2 separate regions of the Homo sapiens genome follow, and region 1 is linked to region 2. Evidence: fine-mapped expression QTL. A gene starts in region 2. The other region holds a variant in brackets. All regions are shown on one strand. Distances are from middle to middle. Region 1 overlaps ITGAE (integrin subunit alpha E). Region 2 holds the start of ITGAE (integrin subunit alpha E).

Region 1 (9,651 bases), 83 kb before region 2:
CTCAGCCTCTCAGAGTGCTGGGATTACAGGCGTGAGCCACCGCACCCCGCCTATTTTGTTTTTTTCTTTTTGAGATGGAGTCTCACTCTGTTGCTAGGCTGGAGTGCAGTGGCACGATCTCGGCTCACTGCAACCTCCGCCTCCCAGGTTCAAATGATTCTCCTGCCTCAGCCTCCTGAGTAGCTGGGACTACAGGCACCCGCCACCATGCCCAGCTAATTTTTGTATTTTTAGTAGAGATGGGGTTTCACCATGTTGGCTAGGATAGTCTCGATCTCTTGACCTCGTGATCTGCCTGCCTCAGCCTCCCAAAGTGCTGGGATTACAGGCGTGAGCCATCATGCCCGGCCACAATCTATCATTTTTTAAAAATAAGAATGAAAACTTGCCCTATCAGGCAAAATGTACTGCAAATCCTAAGTAATACTGTATTTCCAGATTAAAGGCACTACTGCAAAGAAAAGTGTAAATTTATTTAATACCAAATGTTTCCTAAGTTTACTTTTTGCACAATGCACAGACACTTTTGGGACAATGTATGGTTAAAAACTAATATTCTACCAACAGCTCCATGCTGCTCTAGATCATCCTGAAGGAAAAAGTAATGCAAAGGATGCTGGGTCTCCAAGTCCCAGGACTGGCTGATAGCCTCTCCCAGTGGATAGCAGGTCCTAATTCTCTTCTTCGAGCAGATTCTCTGATTTCAGCTGGGCCTTCCTGATGCTCTCCAAGTTCAGTTGTTGATATTTTCTTTTAAAAAAGCCACACTGAAACAAAGGAAGGAAAAGTCCAGTTACAGGCCAAAGATAGCCATCTGTTTCAGAAAACCGGCATTCTGGCTGTTGCCTAAATAGCCCCTATATTCCTCTGCTTCTCATACTTACTACTCCCTTCTCCTAACTTACTCTGAATCTCTCCTGGAGAGTCCAATCCTTCAAGACCTCTGGTGCTCATCCCTCAATCAGAACTGACTCCACCTTCCTCTGAACCCTGCTCTCCCGAGCAGCTGAACCTTTTTAACTTATTTTGCAAAGCATGATAATTTCGGCTGTACTGGATCTAATCTTATTTATGCAAAAATACTCAGTATAGCCTATGATGCTGAAGACAGAAGGAGATCAAGTACAGCTTCCTACATCAAGCTCATCATCTAGTAGGAAAAAGAGATAATTACAACACAGTGTGATGACTGCCATTTGGAAGGGTTTCTAGAAGGGAGCTCACAGCAAACACACAGAAGCCAGCACAGAGGACTCAGGAGTCTCTAGACCGCTTTCAGGGAAGACAGTGAGTGAAGTGAGCAGTCATGGAGGGCATTCCTGACAAGAAAAGCAGCCTACGCGTACGCAGAGGCACGAACCTATTTAGGGAATAGTTTGACTTGTTGGGAGAAAAAAGCAAGGTCAGGTGCTTATGCCTGTAACCCCACCACTTCGGGAGGCCAAGATGAGAAGATGGCTCGAGCCCCGGAGTTTGAGACCAGCCTGGGCAATATAGGGAGACCTCATCTCCACAAAATTAAAATTAAAAAATTAGCTGGGTGTGGTGGCATGCACCTGAGTAACAGTCCCAGTTACTCAGGAGACTAAGATGGGAGGATCACCTGAGCCTAGGAGTACGAGGCTGCAGTGAGCCCTTAACTGTGCCACTGAGCTCCAGCTTGGGGGACAAAGACCCTGGTGTTTATTTTTAAAAAAGAGGCTGGGAGTGGTGGTTCATGACTGTAATCCCAGAACTTTGGGAGGCCGAGGCGGGAGGATCACAAGGTCAGGAGTTTGAGACCAGCCTGGCCAATATGGTGAAACCCCGTCTCTACTAAAAATACAAAACAATTAGCCAGGCATGGTGGCACATTCCTGTAATCCCAGCTACTCAGGAGGCTGAGGCAGGAGAATCTCTTGAACCCGGGGTCAGGGTGGGGGGAAGGGAAGGTTGCAGTGAGCCGAGATCGCACCACCGCACTCAAGCCTGGGCGAAAGAGCGGAACTCCGTCTCAAAAAAAAAAAAGAAAAAAAAGCAACACTTAAGGGCAGAGACGGGTAGCGGACAGAGAGGAGAGGATCTTAAATAGCAGTAGAAGAGTTTGCACATTAAGACAGGGGAAGGCAAGGAAAAGATTTCAACAGGGGAACAACAGTCACATCTGTTTTAAGGCCTTACCGTTAAGGCCTCTTCCAAGTAAGTTATAAATGCTGGCCTAGGGTTGACCTTCCAGGCCCTATTGAACTCACAGGTAACCGAACATAACAGTATTAAGTTCTGGGCCTTGAGAATAGGGAGGTACCAAAGAAATATATATAAAATCACTCTTTATAACTCAGAGTTTTCTCTTTTCAGACAGATACTGTTTTACTCATTTGTCTAAATGGGGGTGTGCAGTTGAAGGAGGAGAAAAAAGTGGCCACGAGGCCAGGGCAGCTGCTCTAAGTCAGAGGTTGGCTGTCCTAAGGAGTTCTGTGCCCAAAACTAGAGCCCAGTCTTCCCTCACTGTGATGCCATGAGTAGAACTGACCTTGAACAGGATGACCAGAATCACGATCAACACCAGAAGTCCACCAACGCTGCCTTTAATGATGATAGGCAAAGAATGGTACTTCTCATCTTTCAGGAAGACGACAGTGATCTAGACAAGACAAAGAGATCGCCCAATAAATCAGGTGAAGCAAACAAGGAAAAAATCCTACATGTTATTTTAAGGAGCAAAATACGAGGACTTGGCAACAACCCGTGTATTGATCAAAGCTGATGACAGTAAAGCAAAAAGCTAGATATTCCCTGATGCAGCATTTTAGATCATCTAAAACTATCCAATCACCCAAATACTTCGTAAGAAACTATTCTGGCCCCTTATCTAGAAGGGCTAGGTCTGTCAGGAGATTATGACCTTCTGTTAAAGATGCTCTGACAGCTTGAAAGAGGGTCCCACGGAATCCGGTCTCAACACAGGACTGTGAGGCTGTCACGCCGCTACACTGCTCTATGTCCCTGAGCCCCGTGCCTATGCTCTTTAAAATGATGACTTCCTTTAAATGATCTCCAAGTCCTTTCCAACTCCGTTCTGACGGCTCTTTTTGATCTTGCACAGATCCCTAAAGGCTTTGGTAATACACTTTCCCCACATAAAATATGACAAAAGTACTGGTCTTCCCCTCACCAGACTAAAAAGTGTGTATTACCTAAGGGACATAATAAATGCAAATTATATCCATGTGTACTACTTGCAGAGCTCAGCTATTAGAAGTCATCCGCAGGTTTTGTTTTCCAAAGGCTCTCCCAATTTCGGGAGTCTAATCTCTCTTCTGGCAGGGCTCAGCTAGAAAGTTCAGGAGATGTCCTTCCTGAGACCCAGGTATGGCCCTTCCAAGTTGTGGCCAGAGGAAGTTCCCAGGACTTAGGTGGGGCCAGAGAGCCAACAAGACTTCTCTGCCTGCCCAGAGCAACCCTTCACGTGTATGTTTAAGCACCAAGGTCAGGGGTGCTTTGGAGAGGTTTCTGTACGGGGTGAAGGGCTGGACAAACTTACCTTTAAGGCCTCTTCCAATTAAGTTATAAATGCTGGTTGACCTAAAGTTGACCTTCCAGTCCTATTTAGCTCATAGGTAGCTGAACTAAATAGGAGTGAAGTCCTAGGCTTTGAGAATAGGGAGGTACCATAGCAACAAAGAGGGAGGAAGAACAGAAAGAGGGCTGGAATATTCTACAGGAGAAGGAGGGGGACTCAAGACCCTGGGTTTGGGAAGTGAAAGGAAGTCCCAAGGTGACTCGGGAAACAGGCCAGATGTGAGTAGAAGAAATGTCCCTATTTCTCAAAGCCACCTCCCTTTATCTTCTTCTAAACCCACAGATTCCCAAAAGTGCCCCAAAGATGCCCAAGTAGAGGTTAAGGGAGAAGCAAGGCACCGGGTACTACTGTTTGCAGCAAACACGGATGCTGGCCTGCCCAGGGGCCCCTCTCTCCTTTTGGATTTTATTCAGGAATCATCGTTGGTCTCAGGTGATCATGACACAGCTATTCTCCTTTGCCAGTGACTGACATGAGATTCAGATCTCACTAATAAGATGTAAGAGGATGTCTCCTGGGAGCTTTTGGAAACTGTTTCATCCCTGAAAAGGGAAGGCACATGAAGAAAAATCCAACATCCTTTTGCTACTGACTTCTTGCTTCCTGTTTTGTATCCTGCCATGTGAAAATACAGCATTTGGAGATGTGGCAACTTTGTGCTGGCCATGAAGGAATGCGTCCCCCACACGGCAGAGTACAAGGACCAAAGAAGCCAGGCCATCGCCCCAGGCCGGCCTCCCTCACTGGATAAACAGCATATGCCCTTATGCTGCATGAGCTGGATTTTCCCTTTCTTGTGGCTGAAATGCATTTGGATACAGTTTGTTTATACTCATAGAGTCACTGTAAGTCAGGGGCTTATTGTCAGGAACTACTTAACACTTTGCTTAGGATATTGGATTTAAAGAAAGGAATTTTGGGGAATCCATGCTATAGAAATAAAAGTATCAGTAAGTAAGAGGGGGAAACATACAAATTTAAAATGTGCACATAAGAAACTTAATAGTAACTCCTCCCTGCTGGGGGCATGGGAAGGGAGAAATGAAGGAACAATTATTTTTCATTTGGTACCATTCTCTGTATGGCTTGGATTTTCTTGCTATTATTTTTATTTGTTAAAATCTGGGCAGTGCAATAATGGGGCACTTCTATTTCTTCCGTTTTCTGTATTTTCCATTTCCCTCTATTTTCTGTATTAGAAATACACTACTTAGCCGGACATGGTGGCTCATGCCTGTAATCCCAGCACTTTGGGAGGTCAAGGCGGGCAGATCACCTGAGGTCAGAAGTTCGAGACCAGCCTGGCCAACATGGTGAAATCCTGTCTCTATTTAAAAAAAATAAATAAATTAGCCAGGCATGGTGGTGGGCACCTGTAATCCCAGCTACTCGGGAGGCTGAGGAAGAAGAATCACTTGAACTGGGGAGGTGGAGGTTGCAGTGAGCCGAGATGGCACCAACGGACTCCAGCCTGGG[C/T]GACACAGTGAGATTCTTCCTCAAAAAAAAAAAAAAAAAAAAAGAAAAGAAAAGAAAAAGAAATACACTACTTAAAAATAAAAGGAAATGTTATATTGGCATGTCTAGAGAATTGCTCCTTTCTCCTCCTCCAGGGAGGAAAACAGAGGACCTTATATTTAGCAATCCAGCATCACTCTCCTGACATTCCCTCTAGTAGAGAATCATGCCTAACTAAAGAGCTCAGAGCTCACAGATAGATCACCTCTGAAGCCATGTCCAGGCAAGGGTCAACAAGAATGAAAACACAGGGTAACACACAAAGCATTCAGTCCACAAATCACAGGCATCAGTCTGACTTCTAGTCATACTTTTGCAAAAAGAATTCCAAGAGTTCCAGTATCTAGTCTAAATCTTATAAAAGATTTATGCATTCCTGAGTACTGTTTAATACTATAACTAAACACTGATACAGCACACTAAGACAGTTACTGGATACAAAAAACAATTTCTCACTTAGGTAATTCATTTTTTATTTATTTATTTATTTTTTGAGACTGAGTCTCACTCTATCACTGAGGCTGGAGTGGAGTGGTGTGATCTCGGCTCACTGCAACCTCTGCCTCCCAGATTCAAGCGATTCTCGTGCCTCAGCCTCCCAAGTAGGTGGGATTACAGGCACCCACCATCATGTCCGGCTAATTTTTGTATTTTTGGTAGACAGGGTTTCTCCATGTTGGCCAGGCTTGTGTTGAACTTCTGACCTCAGGTGATCCACCTGTCTCGGCCTCCCAAAGTGCTAGGATTACAGGCGTGAGCCACCTGCGCCCAGCTGCGAAATTTTTTTTTTTAATCAATCCATTTTCAAATCAAAGTATATACTGCAGATTCCAGCCTAGTTATTTCAACTCAGAACTCCTCAGCTTAGGCCTCTTAATTGCCTTATTTCATAAGAAGCTGACTCACTCAAAGGTCACAAAGGCAGCGATGGCAGAGCCAAGATCAGAAGTGTTAAGGCTGAAAACAGGAAGAGGGCAACAGAATGTCTGTGGAGGTGCTCAAAGGTTAGGCACAATTTTCCTTGGGCACTACTCAGAAGCCAGCCAGGAATTACCTTAGTTCTGTGGTTCTCTGCATTCAGTCCCTCATATAGAGATTTGTTGAAAGATATTTCACCAAGGATCTGCAGTTCAGTTACATCTTTTAGTAACTAGAAGATGGGGAAAGGAATGAGGGAAACAAAACATATTTTAGACATGAACTCACTGTGTTTGAACAGCCTTCACCACCTTTCCCTTTAAAGGTATTCCTGGGCTTAGTTAATGGCCCTAACGTACACAACACTACATAAAGTTACCCAAACAAGACATCTGCAGTTATTCTTCAACTTCCTTTTTTTTTTTTTTTGAGATGGAGTTTCGCTCTTTCGCCCAGGCTGGAGTGAAGTGGTGCGATCTCGGCTCACTGCAACCTCCACCCCGTCAGGTTCAAGCGATTCTCCTGCCTTAGCCTCCCGAGTAGCTGGAATTATGGGCATGTGCCACCATGCCAGGCTAATTTTTGTATTTTTAGTAGAGATGGGGTTTTGCCATGTTGGCCAGGCTTGTCTCGAACTCCTGACCTCAGATGATCTACCCACCTCGGCCTCCCAAAGTGCTGGGATTACAGGCGTGAGCTGCCGCGCCTGGCCTTTTCTTCAACTTCTTTTCCCTTGTGCCATCCAAAGTCAGTTCTTGACTGACTGACTTATTTTTGAGACAGGATCTCGCTCTGTCACCCATGCTGGAGTGCAATGGCATGATCATGGGTCACTATAGCCTCAACCTTCCAGGCTCAAGTGATCCTCCCACCTCAGTCTCCTGAGTAGCTGAGACCACAGGTGCACCCCACCACACTGGGCTAATTTTTGTATTTTTTGTAGAGATGGGGTTTTACCATGTTGCCCAGGCTGGTCTCAAACTCCTGGGCTCAAGCAATCCACCCACCTTAGCCTCCCACAGTGCTGAGATTACAGGCATGAGCCACCACACCCAGCTTATTCATTTTATTTAACGTAAGAGATTTTTCCTTTTTTTTTTTTTTTTTTTTTTTTTTTTTGAGACAAGGTCTCACTCTGTTACTCGGGCCGGAATGGAGTGGCTCAATCATAGCTCACTGAAGCTTCAAATTCCTGGGCTCAAACGATACTCCTGCCTCAGCCTCCCAAGTAGCTGGGACTACAGGCATGAGCCACCATGCGTGGCTAATTTATGTATTTATTTATTTTTAAGAAATGGGGTTTCACTATGCTGCCCAGGCTGATCTTGAACTCCTGGCCTCAAGCAATCCTCCCGCCTCAGCCTCCCAAAGTGTTGGGATGACAGATGTGAGCCACCACACTCACAATTCTTTTTTTTTAAATTATTTCTTGTATCTGTCCCTTTCTTTTCCACCCCCATTGCTACTTCTTCAGTTGAGACCTCACAAATGTCACCTGGATCACTGTAAAACATTAAACTTGATCACTTGATCACTAGTTCCCACTTTAGAATAAGTGATCAGGGAAGGCCTCTCTAAGAAAATAACACGTGTGGCCGGGTGTGGTGGCTCATGCCTGTAATCCCAGCACTTCGGGAGGCTGAGGTGGGTAGATCATCTGAGGTCAGGAGTTCAAGACCAGCCTGACCAACACGATGAAACCCCATCTCTACTAAAAATACAAAATTAGCCGGGCGTGGTGGCTCACGCCTGTAATCCCAGCACTTTGGGAGGCCAAGGAGGGCGGATCACCTGAGGTCAGGAGTTCAAGACCAGCCTCACCAACATGGAGAAACCCCATCTCTACTAAAAATACAAAATTAGCCGGGTATGGTGGCGCATACCTGTAATCCCAGCTACTTGGGAGGCTGAGGCAGGAGAATCGCTTGAACCCGGGAGGCGGAGGTTGCAGTGAGCCGAGATCGTGCCATTGCACAACAAGAGCGAAACTCCGTCTTGAAAGAAAGAAAAGAAAAGAAAAGAACACCTAGGTCGGGTGCGGTGGCTCACGCCTGTAATCCCAGCACTTTGGGAGGCTGAGGCGGGCGATCACCTGAGGTCAGGAGTTCGAGACCAGCCTGGCCAACATGGTGAAACCCCCTCTCTACTAAAAATACAAAAATTAGCTGGGCGTGGTCGCCGGCGCCTGTAATCCCAGCTACTCGGGAGGCTGAGGCAGGAGAATCACTTGAACCCGGGAGGCGGAGGTTGCAGTGAGTAGAGATCGTGCCACTGCACTCCAGCCCGGGTGACAGAGCAAGACTCCATCTAAAAAAAAAAAAAAAAAAAAGAAAAGAACACCTGAGCTAAATTTAAGAAGAAACCACCTACGTCAGGACCTAGAGGAAGAGCAGTGTCAAGCAAAGGAACAGCAAGTACAAAGTCTTGTGGCCAGAATAATGCTGTACTGGCGAGCTAGAAGAATAGGACAGAATAACCCGATTATAAAAGGGGCAGTGGGAGAGAAAGGCGAGTACTAGGAGATGAAGTTGAAGAATTAAGCAGAGACCAGATCAAGTACTGCCTTGCTCTGGCCATGAAAAAAGTATGGATTTTAGTCTAAGTGTGCTCAAGCATCAGTTTTGTTTGTTTGTTATTTTTAATAAGCAGGGGAATGGCACAATCTAATGTCTGCTCTTAGAAGACGGATAGCTGTTACGTGGGAATTATTTGTAAAGAATGTGGGAAAAGCAGAGGCAAGAAAGGCAGGCCGAAGGTTATTGCAACAGCCCTGGCAAGAAAGGGTAGCTTGAATTACAACGGCAGTGGAAATGGAGAGAAGTGAATGGGTTTAGGATATATTTTGGCCCTGAAATGGCAGGGCTTGCTGCTGGAATAGACGTGGGGATGTAGGAAAGAGGAGTCACAGGTAATCCCTCGAGTTCCTTGTACTGTAACTGGAGTATATCTCCCTCCTGAGGGTAGCTAAGGAACGGGTTGGGACAGAGGGTTGGTTTTTTGCACCAAAAGATCTATTTTGGACATGGACATGTTATGCAAAGATGCTATTATCTCTTCTAGGGGCGATGCCCGTGAGCAACTGGATAATCAAATCTGGAGCATTTCAGTCTCAAACACCTCCTCAGAGTGATCCCAGGAGATCTCTGCAGCCACGGTGACATTTTCTTTATCTGAAGCGATGACACAGCTCACTGAATGCCATTCTTCCACATGCTGGAAAAGCGAGGTCTAGTGAACACAATTCCTTTCCGTGCGGAAAGTCTGAAATCTTTTTAACACTTCGGACACAGAGCATCGTAAGGTCCCAGAATAGAGGGTGTGAGCAATTTCAGCGCTCACCTCGGCCCAAGCGAAGCTCCAGCGGGAGCAATTGAGACCCAGGGACGAAGCTAGGGAGGGCCTGGCAGCCCCCGGCACTGGCCGGCAGGGGTAACCCAGGAAAAACAGTCTCCTGGCCTCTCGTTACCCGCTTCAGGCCCTCCGCCCTCCCCTGGCCTCTCGGGACGGCCGCGCTTACCTGAACCGAACTGTACGCACAAGCGCGCTCCTGACTCCAGGTGCACACCGTGGAGGCCTGAAACGAGAGCCATGACCGCGACGCGCTGAACAAACCAAGCCGCCAGTTTTCCGTCCCGTCCCGGCCCCGGCCCTGGCGA
Region 2 (9,651 bases):
ATGGTCTCGATCTCCTGACCTCATGATCTGCCCACCTTGGCCTCCTAAAGTGCTGGGATTACAGGCTTGAGCCACTGCGCCTGGCCTTTTTTTTTTTTTTGAGACGGTGTCTCTCTCTGTCTTCCAGGCTGGAGTGCAGTGGTGTGATCTCAGCTCACTGCAACCTCTGCCTCCTGGGTTCAAGCAATTCTCCTGCCTCAGCCTCCCAAGTAGCTGGAATTACAGGTGCGCACCACCATGCCTGGCTCATTTTTGTATTTTTAGTAGAGACGGGGTTTCACCGTGTTGGCCAGGATGGTCTTGAACTCCTGATCACAAGTGCTCTGCCCGCCTTGGCCTCCCATAGTGCTGGGATTTCAGGCGTGAGCCACCGTGCCTGGCCAGGAAACTAAACGTTTCTCATGAGTGTGTCCTCCTCCCCACGTCTGCCTTCCGCAACAGCCGCAGATGGGGCCAAGGCAGCAGCCTCCTCACGGGCCTCTCTGCCTCCCCTCTCCCCCAGATTCCAACTAACACACAACATACAATTCTGTCGCCATCCTGGTCAAGACCTTCTGTGGCTCCCCACTGCCCTCAGCAGGAACTCCAAGCTCCCCCAGGCCGGCACTCAGGTCCCCACGTTCCTCACCACCTCCACCGTGGGCCTCTCGGGACTGGATGCCCGCATTCCTCCACTTATACCACACCTGCCACACGAATGCAGGCCTCCCAGAGAAGGGCAGGGATGTGGGGCTCCCACACGGCCCACACTCCCCCAGCCAGCTCTCCCCCACACACTGCATTCCGGGGGCATTTCACCTTTGCTTGGGCTGCCCCTCTGCCTGGAGTGCCCCTTCCCTACCCCCGTGCTGTGACACCCTGCCGGGGCCGGGGAGGCTACTGTGTGCACAACCTGCCTTCTCTTCACACAGGGGCTGGGATAGGGGTGGCCTCGCCTCTGCCCGCACCTCCAGGGCCCAGCATGTCCCGATTTGGGGCGGGGCTGGAAGGGAAAGCAACACCAGAGGAGACAATCTCCTGCTCCCACTCACACTTCGCCTCCATCTTCCTACAAACCAGACTCTTCACACCCCAGGGCTTGGTCCCTCCTATCCCCCCTGCACAGAAGGCCCCTCTGCTCACCCCCAGCCTGTACTTGCCAAGGACCTCCCCGTCCTTCAGAGCCCACCTCAGATGCTACAGTCTCCCACTCCCCAAGGACTGAGGTTTTCTATCACGCACAGGCCCGGGGTGATGCCCCGGCACAGCCCCTGGCCTCAGCCCGAGTGCGTGCCACCAGCAGAGCGGGCCCTGGACTTCTGGTTCCTTCTTCTTCACCCCTGTAAGGTGTTGTAGGCTGACAGGACAGGCTTCTTCACGCAAGGGTGGAAACTCAACCTCTGAGACCCAGGATGGAGAAGTGAGTTGATGTGACTGCAGAATGAGTCAGGGGTGAAGACTGACTTGGGGACAGCAGGCCACAGGGTAAGAGGGCATGATGGGGCTGGTGGTCAGGGTGTGGACAGTTCCAGGGTTTCAGTGTCTGTCTGCACCCAATGCTTCTAAAATCTCCCTTAGACAACTGCTATTATTCCGTCTGCTGCCACAAATAAGAAGTAGGCATCACCAGAGTGGCTGGCCTGGAGAGAGTGGAAGGTCAGGGCCAGGCCAGGCCAGTCCTGGATTCTCTCCAGCCTAAGGAGGCCCAACCCGGCACAGGGTACAGGGTGCTGGGCCTGGAGCCACAGTCTGAGGGAGTTCTTCCTCCCAGCATCTCCTGGACATTTTCTTTCTCAGACTCTCCTCAGCCCCCAAGACTCAACGCCACCTCACCTCCTCCAGGAAACTCTCCTGGACTGGCCCATCCTAGTCTCAGGACCTCACAGCATGGAGCAGAACTGCAGCAGCCTCGTTTCCGCCACCCACACCGGAGCTGCGGGGGCCCTGCTCTGGTCCCCTTCCCGTGGCTGAGCTGAGCTGTGGGCTAAGTGGTCTCATGGCAAGTCTGCTCCATCATCGCTCTCTGCTGCCCATCAGCTTGGGAAGGGCCTAGGCCTCAAAAGAGGTTTGATCGATGCCACCTGCTGGAAAAGGCACTGAGGTGATGGGTGGTGGTCTCAGAGGCTAAAGGAGACAGATGAGCCACAGGAGTATTCTGGAGCTGGGAGGCAGGACAGAGGCCTGGGCTTGAGCCTCGTGTCTATTATCAGTTGCTTGCAAGCCTGGGTAGTCACTGCCCGCTCTGTGCCCCAGTCACCTCCTCTGTACTGGGAGAGGGTAGACAAGAGTCTAGTCTAAGCATCTGCTCCAGATATTCTTGGTAATGGGAGATCAAAGCCACAAGCCATAAAAAGAGTGAGACTCTCTCCACACCCCACATGTAACTAAAAACAGAGAAGTCTAAATTGTAAAATAAAAGGAAGTTCAACAAACTGTTGACCTTTCCATGGTGACTATTCTGATGTTTTTGAAATATAAAATATTAGGCCGGGCAAGGTGGCTCATGCCTGTAGTCCCAACACTTTGGGAGGCCGAGGCAGGTCGATCACCTGAGGGCAGGAGACCAGCCTGACCAATATGGTGAGACCCTGTCTCTACTAAAAATACAAAAATTAGCCAGGCGTGGTGGCAGGCGCCTGTAATCCCAGCTACTCGGGAGGCTGAGGCAGGAGAACTGCTTGAACCTGGGAGGCAGAAGTTATGGTGAGCCAAGATCCAGCCTGGGCTCCAGCCTGGGCAGCAGAGCAAGACTCTGTCTCAAAAAATAAAATAAAATAAAATGAAATATAAAATATTAAAATCTGTCCAAAAACGTGTTCCTTGCTGGTACCCTACACATTGTGGCCTGCTTCCTGGGTGATCTGGCCCCAGGTGGGATGCTAATCCCAAGTCCCCTCCCAGCACAGCCTCAGCCCATCTTTCAGGGAGAACTCAGCTACCAGGAGCCTTTCATCCACATAAGCTTGATGCCCATCCAATTCTCCGGCCAACCTCCTGAGCAGGGGCAGGAGACCCATGGGAAGTCTGCTCAGATCACTAGGCAGGACCACCCTGGCCTCCGGCTTAATCTTAGCAGCCTCCAGGGGCTCACCTGACCGTGCTGTCTCATCACAGGGGGCCCCCGAAAGGACTCATGGCTTGGCTTGCCCAGAGGCTTCCATGGGACAGTTAAAGGCTAAAATGGGACCCCCCAGGCAGCAGAAGTGCCTCCCCCCACCCCACATTCCAGTTTTTACCCTGGGCCTGACAACACAGGAAGCAGGCTCCCTGCCAACACTCACACCCTCTACCATACAGACACTTGCCCCCAGTCTCTGGTCAACACTCTCTCACAGGGTCCTCACCCTCATCAGCCCAACCCCTGCTCTGTAACAGAAGGGAGCTCTGCCAGGCGGAGCCTCCACACTCAGAGAACAAACTACAGAGTCAAGGACCTGCCCCAAGTGGGTGCCATGGGGAGAGGGCCTCGGTGGCGGGGGGAGGCTGGCTGGAGGAGGAACAGAATGGCAGAGCCCTGGAGTCCAAAGGCCCTGGCTGACAGAACTGGCAACACGAAGCCTCAGCCGCCCTTCCCAACAAGCCTGGGGCCCTGACCCACCGAGCAAGACTCCTTTCCTGGAGGAGCTGCCACTCTCTAACCTCTGGCTCTAACTGAGCCCCATCAGAGACAGACAGTCAAGGCTGTAGTCTGCAGACACCTGGCTGGAGCTGAGGGCACAGCAGCCCCTCGAAGCAGCGGGTGAGAGGACTTACTGGCTATGCAGAGCAGAGTGTGGAAGAGCCACATCCTTGCTGGAGCAGAGGCGGCTGTGTGGGAGCCGAGGCGAGTGCGACACATGGGCCGTGGCCCACTCAGCTTCCCCTCAGCCAGGAGGCCAGGAGGCGGGGACAGAAGCACACACACCAGCAAGGACCCACAGACCGGCACTTTCAACCAAACAGAGACACTCCGGCTCGTACACAACCAGCCGTGTGGCTTCCTCAGTTGTGGGCTGGACCCTAGGAGCTTAGGGGCCACTGTCAGCCCCACTCTACCACCCACACTTTGACCCACACTTTCATGGAATAGGGAGCTGAGGTTTGGCCAGGGCCACAGTTCTAGGTGTCCTCAGCAGATGCTGGAGGTGCAGGAGCAACGTGAATCCAGCCTGCCGTTCGTATCATCCATTTGAGTCGGTCCCCTGTCCTGCCTCAGAACCTACCACCAGACATCTCAGCCCAGCTTCCAGCCCAGGGTCCTCGGTGGTGGTTGCCTCAGCACTGAGACAGGCGTCCCCCTCCCATAGGAAGTGCCTCCCCAGCCAAAAACTGGGCTCTTGTACCAGCCCATGCACTCAAGGCCCTGGGGTTCTGGAGGGCCAGGTGAGTGGAAAGACCCAACGCACTGAGTGAAATCACTGCCTCGATTCAACTTCGGCTGCGTTCATTCTCTTTAAAACCAGGACAGCAACCTGACGTGGAAACTGACTGAACAGGACTCTGAGTTACCAGAATAACAGAAGTAAAATTCTATACATCTTCCAGCATACCTGTGATGCATCCCAGCATTCCACAGAACACGCCGTTGACAGCTGGCAGTCGTGTTTAAGTGCTGATCTGAGATCTGTACTGTGTGACCAAGTCTGTGACACAGAAGGAACTCTCCTGCACCCCTGCTCCCCAGGCTGCTGGAAGTGCAGAGTGGCGCCGTCAAACAGAACTCTGCGCGGGGATGGAACTGCTCTAGGTCGACGCTGTCCAGGATGGTACTCATGAGCCACATATGGTACTAAACCCTTAAAATGCCACTAGAACAACTGATGAACTGAATTTTGTATATTTTATTTAATTTTAATTAAACGTAAAAAGGCAGGACATTCCAAGGCTCTCTAACACGAGTGTCTGCAGCCCCATTCGCTTTGAGATGTGAATGTGTTAACCCAGGGTGGACAATGGTGTTGACTTCATTACTAGATAAAAATCCATGTTATTTTGTTTCTCGCATTGAAAGGCTGCTTGGCTAAGGTTCTGTGAAGATCCGATGACATTTCCAACACTTTGCCTTGTCTGCTTTGCTCTGACAAAGTGCTTATGACTACTAGATCTTGCTCGGTTATGTGAGATTACAATTCACCGGTTTCCATCCTGTATGAAACAGAAGTTAAACAGTTGTAAAAGCAAAATTCCAGGTCTGGTGGTTTTCCTGCCAGGTCATGATGAAACCATCCTACTTCTGTTGAACCTCGTCCCAGGCAGGATCGGGGCCTGCGGCCTACAGCCTGTCTTCCCAGCGCTCCAGGGCTCGTGACCCTCCTCCTCCCCTCACTTCATTCTGCGCTCCAAGGGCACTGGGGAGAGTCACAGTGGTCTCCTCTCCCCCGCATTGGCCTAAAGCAGGAAGAGAGCAGCCCAGTCACTGAGCAGATCCCTGCTAGGGCAGGGCTAGAACCCAGACTGCAGCTCACTCGAGATTCCTGAGAGAAGACTTTGTGTTTGGAGTGTGAACGTCAGGGTGCCTCGGGAAGCCAGGGAAAGCTGATGACTGGGTGCTGGACAGGGAGCAGGGCCACTTCTGTACCTCTGCACACTTCTAGAATGCGGACTCATCCTGCATCCATCCAGTATGTATTTATCCAAGCGTCAGTGCCTCTAGTCATGAGACACACAGGGGTCCGTAAAGCCCACCTGGCGGTAGCTGCTTTCCCCACAAACCCAAACTACATCCCCAAGGTCAGGGCCAGGCTCTGTTGAGTAATGCTCCCCATCACAGCACGCAGCACAAGGCTGGCTGTTTGACAAATACACACATAACCAAAAGACATGTGAATGTGGTTTCCCAACTCACTTTAAACAAATATTCCGGGACCAACTTCAAGGACGTTCTACAACAGAAACTGGACTGTACTCTTCACAAACATCAATGTCATGAAAGACAGAAAGGCTGAGGACCTGCTCCAAACGAAAGGAGGCTGCAGAGAGGACAACTAAAGGCAGCGCTTGATCCTGGATTGGATCCTGGACCAGAAAAACAACGGCTTTCAAAATCATTATTGGGACAGTTGGCAAATTTGAAACAGGAACTACAAATTAGCAACTCCTGGGCTGATCAGAGAATATTACACATTTCCTGAATTTGAGAACTGTACCATGGGCATGTGAGAGGCTGTCCCTGTTCTTGGGAAATGTTCACTAAAACATCTTACGGATAAACGAGCATGATGTATACAAATAATCCTCAAATGGTTCATGGTTCAGAGAGGATAGGAAGAAACAGGGGTGAGGGAGAAGAGGAGGGAACGAATGAAAGAGAAAATGTGGCAAAATGTTCTTTGTTGTACCCTTCAAACTGCTGTGATTTTGAAATTATTTCAAAATAAAGTTTTAAATATTTTAAAAAATTTTTTTCTTTCTCCCCTTGATACCAGGAAGAATAAAGTTTTTAAAAAATGGGCAGGTGGGCCAGGCGCGGTGGCTCACGCCTGTAATCCCAGCACTTTGGGAGGCCGAGGCGGGCGGATCACAAAGTCAGGAGATCGAGACCATCCTGGCTAACACGGTGAAACCCGGTCTCTACTAAAAATACAAAAAAAATTAGCCAGGCGTGGTGGCGGGTGCCTGTAGTCCCAGCTACTCAGGAGGGTGAGGCAGGAGAATGGCGTGAACCCAGGAGGCGGAGCTCGCAGTGGGCGGAGATCATGCCACTGCACTCCACTTGGGTGACAGAGCGAGACTCCGTCTCAGAAAAAGTGGCCAGGTGCACTTGTAGTCACAGTTACTTAAGAGGTTCAAGCTACTTGGGAAAGCTTGAGCCCAGGAGTTTGAGTCCAATCTAGACAACATAGTATGAACCTGTCTCTTTAAAAAAAAGTTGCAAAATGTTCATGGATGGAGGAGACGTGCTCGGCGTGAGGTGAAAGGGCTGCCTGTGGGTCGGGCGTGGTAGCTGACACCTGTAATCCCAGCACTTTGGGAAGCCGAGGTAGGCGGATCGCCTGAGTTCAGGAGTTTGAGACCAGCCTGGGCAACATGGTGAAACCCTGTCTTTACTAAAAACACAAAAAATTAGCCAGGCGTGGCAGCGTGTGCCTGTAGCCCCAGCTTCGGGAGGCTATGGTGGGAGAATTGCTTGAACCTGGGAGGCGGAGGGTGCAGTGAGCCGAGACTGCGCCATTGCACTCCAGCCTGGGCGACAAGAGCAAGACTTCATCTCCAAAAAAAACAGAAAGGGCTGCCTGCTGTCTTCAGAGTGAGTCAAAAGCACTGAGGCACAGCCTTCAGACACAGGAAATGGTTCTATTCTCCCACTTGCCTTCTGACTCTTAGGAAGCCAGAAAGAGTGACGGCATTGCTGAGACCAGAGCCCAGGGCTGCAGAGCAGTGGTACTCACGACCTTTGAACACTCGGTAGGAGTGCCCTGCTCAGTGCCAAGGCCTCACATGCGAGCCCTCATCTGAGCCTCTCAGCCACCTACAAGGTCAACCCGATTTCTCAGATAAGGATGCTGCCTCTGAGAGGCCACATAGCTAGTAAGGAGCAGAGCTGGGACTCCAAACAGGCCTGTTTCCTCCAGAATCAGGACTCTGAACCACCACAAACTCTCCTGCCTTCAGCTCTTTTGGTGTGTAGACTTTTTTTATTTTTGTTTTTGAGATGGAGTCTTGCTCTTTCATCCAGACTGGAGTGCAGTGGCACAATCTCAGCTTACTGCAACCTCTGCCTCCTGGGTTCAAGCGATTCTCCTGCCTCAGCCTCCCGAGTAGCTGGGACTACAGGTGCCCGCCACCACACCCGGCTAATTTTTGTATTTTTAGTAGAGACGGGGTTTCACCATGTTGGCCAGGCTGGTCTCGAACTCCTGACATCAGGTGATCCCCGCCTCGGCCTCCCAAAGTGCTGAGACTACAGGTGTGAGCCACGTGCCCAGCTAGGTGGTGTGTAAACTTTAAAAAAGCAGAGATTTCATCCCACAAATGCAGACTGGGATCTCCACATGACCAGGTGCTGTGGACTGAACTGTAAATGTCCTCCAAATTCATATGTTGAAGCCCTAACCCCCAATGTGGCTCTTCTTGGACATATGGCTTTTAGGAAGTAATTAAGGTTAGATGAGGTCATAATCCAGCAAGATTGGTGGCCTTACAAGAGCCATGTGCAGGCACCAAGAAAAGCCTACGTGAATAAGACAGCAAGAGGGTGCTCACCATGTTGGCATCCTCCGGCCTCAGATCTGTGGGGGACTGCGGGGGTGATGGGACAGGGAGAGAACAAGGAGTGGATTTTCTTGTCCTTTCTAAGGAAGGGGCTGGGAGGGCGAGGGCTGCACTGGGTGCTGGGACCAAGGGTCCAGGGGCTTGGATCTCTTGTTTACAAACCCCTACTTCTTTCCTGCTATCTAGCCCACACCCCTGATGCTCCCCGGAAAGGAGAGCAAGGATCCTTGAACACGCGTTAGCACTAGAAGGAAACTGGAGCTCACCCCAGTTGAGCCCTCCATTTGACAGACAGGGAAGCTGAGGCCCAGGGAGGTGAGGGGACTTGCTCAGTCTTTCCAATTGAGTATGTGGGGCAGAAGGAGTCCCCAGAGCCCCGGCCCCAGCCACCATCCTATTTGACTTTCCCCAACAGGCATTCTACCTCAGCTAAAGATGCTGCCTGCCTCTCACAGGCCCTGAGGAGAAGATGGCCACATCACAGGATCGAACACTACCACAAAACTCCTAGGAAGGGACAGGAAGGTGAGAATCCTTTCTTTTTTTTTTGAGACGGAGTCTCGCTCTGTCGCCCAGGCTGGAGCGCAGTGGCGCGATCTCACCTCACTGCAACCTCTGCCTCCCGGGTTCAAGTAATTCTCCTGTCTCAGCCTCCCAAGTAGCTGGGACTACAGGTACCCACCACCACGCCCAGCTAATTTTTGTATTTCTAGTAGAGACGGGGTTCCAACATGTTGGCCAGGCTGCTCTTGAACTCCTGACCTCAGGTGATCCACCCGCCTCGGCCTCCCAAAGTGCTGGGATTACAGGCGTGAGCCACCAAGCCCGGCCTGAGAATTCTCTTCTGTCAATGGTGTGGGCCTCTCGACCTCACTAACCTATATTGGCCCAGAGGTGATGGTGACAATTTGAGATAACACAAAGTCTCAACTATTTACGAACCTGGTCATCCAGAGAGGGCCCCGGAATTGCTCAAATGAACAGTAAGAATCCTGAGGCAGGGTACTGACCTTGGTAGGTGAAATACCGCCTATACTCTCAAGTTTTATGGATAGTGCAGCCAAATTCCACTCGGATGCCTCACAACTACTTAAAATTGGCTTTTTGAAGCAGCATTTCCCTAACTACTCCCAGGAACAAAGTTCTGTGAAATGTTCATAGAGCTTCATTGAAAAAAAAAAAAAAAAAAAAGCTACAATATTTTTCTTCTAAGATTTATTTTATAAACATGTAAGAAAAGTTGTAGATATTTATTGTGGGTCTGGTTATGCAAGAACAATCTTCCTGGACACAGTGTGCGATTCTCAGTATCAAAAGCATTCTCTTCTTTCAGTTCGTAAAAGAAAAACATGGTTTAACTTCTAATTTACTGCTTATTATAAGGTTTAAAAGCAATTACTGTACTTATGTATCGAACTTATTTGTGTAGCAACTAATTCATCTGTGAAGCCATGGTTTGCTGTGGCTTCACAGTAAATTTTG

The links. PIP is the estimated chance that this variant, and not a neighbour inherited with it, causes the effect.
Region 1: its variant is the best candidate, but not a certain one, in a credible set for the expression of ITGAE in whole blood (TOPMed, PIP 0.72).

What each region holds. Positions count from the first base shown.
Region 1 is chr17:3,714,176-3,723,826 of GRCh38, forward strand. ITGAE (integrin subunit alpha E) reads right to left here. Exons shown (of 31, transcript NM_002208.5): 27 at 9,513-9,569; 28 at 9,113-9,208; 29 at 6,132-6,227; 30 at 2,513-2,623; 31 at 453-767. The coding sequence ends at 672. It also overlaps a transcript of P2RX5 not described here. Among named protein-coding and RNA genes, the nearest start is that of HASPIN, 4.9 kb to the right of the region's middle. RefSeq lists a silencer at 9,629-9,651. The variant C/T (reference allele first, on the strand shown) is at 5,039.
Region 2 is chr17:3,797,379-3,807,029 of GRCh38, forward strand. ITGAE (integrin subunit alpha E) reads right to left here and starts at 3,810. Exons shown (of 31, transcript NM_002208.5): 1 at 3,733-3,810. The coding sequence starts at 3,766. It overlaps NCBP3 (nuclear cap binding subunit 3), which reads right to left. Exons shown (of 13, transcript NM_001114118.3): 13 at 4,780-9,651. RefSeq lists enhancers at 388-1,286, 1,467-1,526, 1,537-1,586.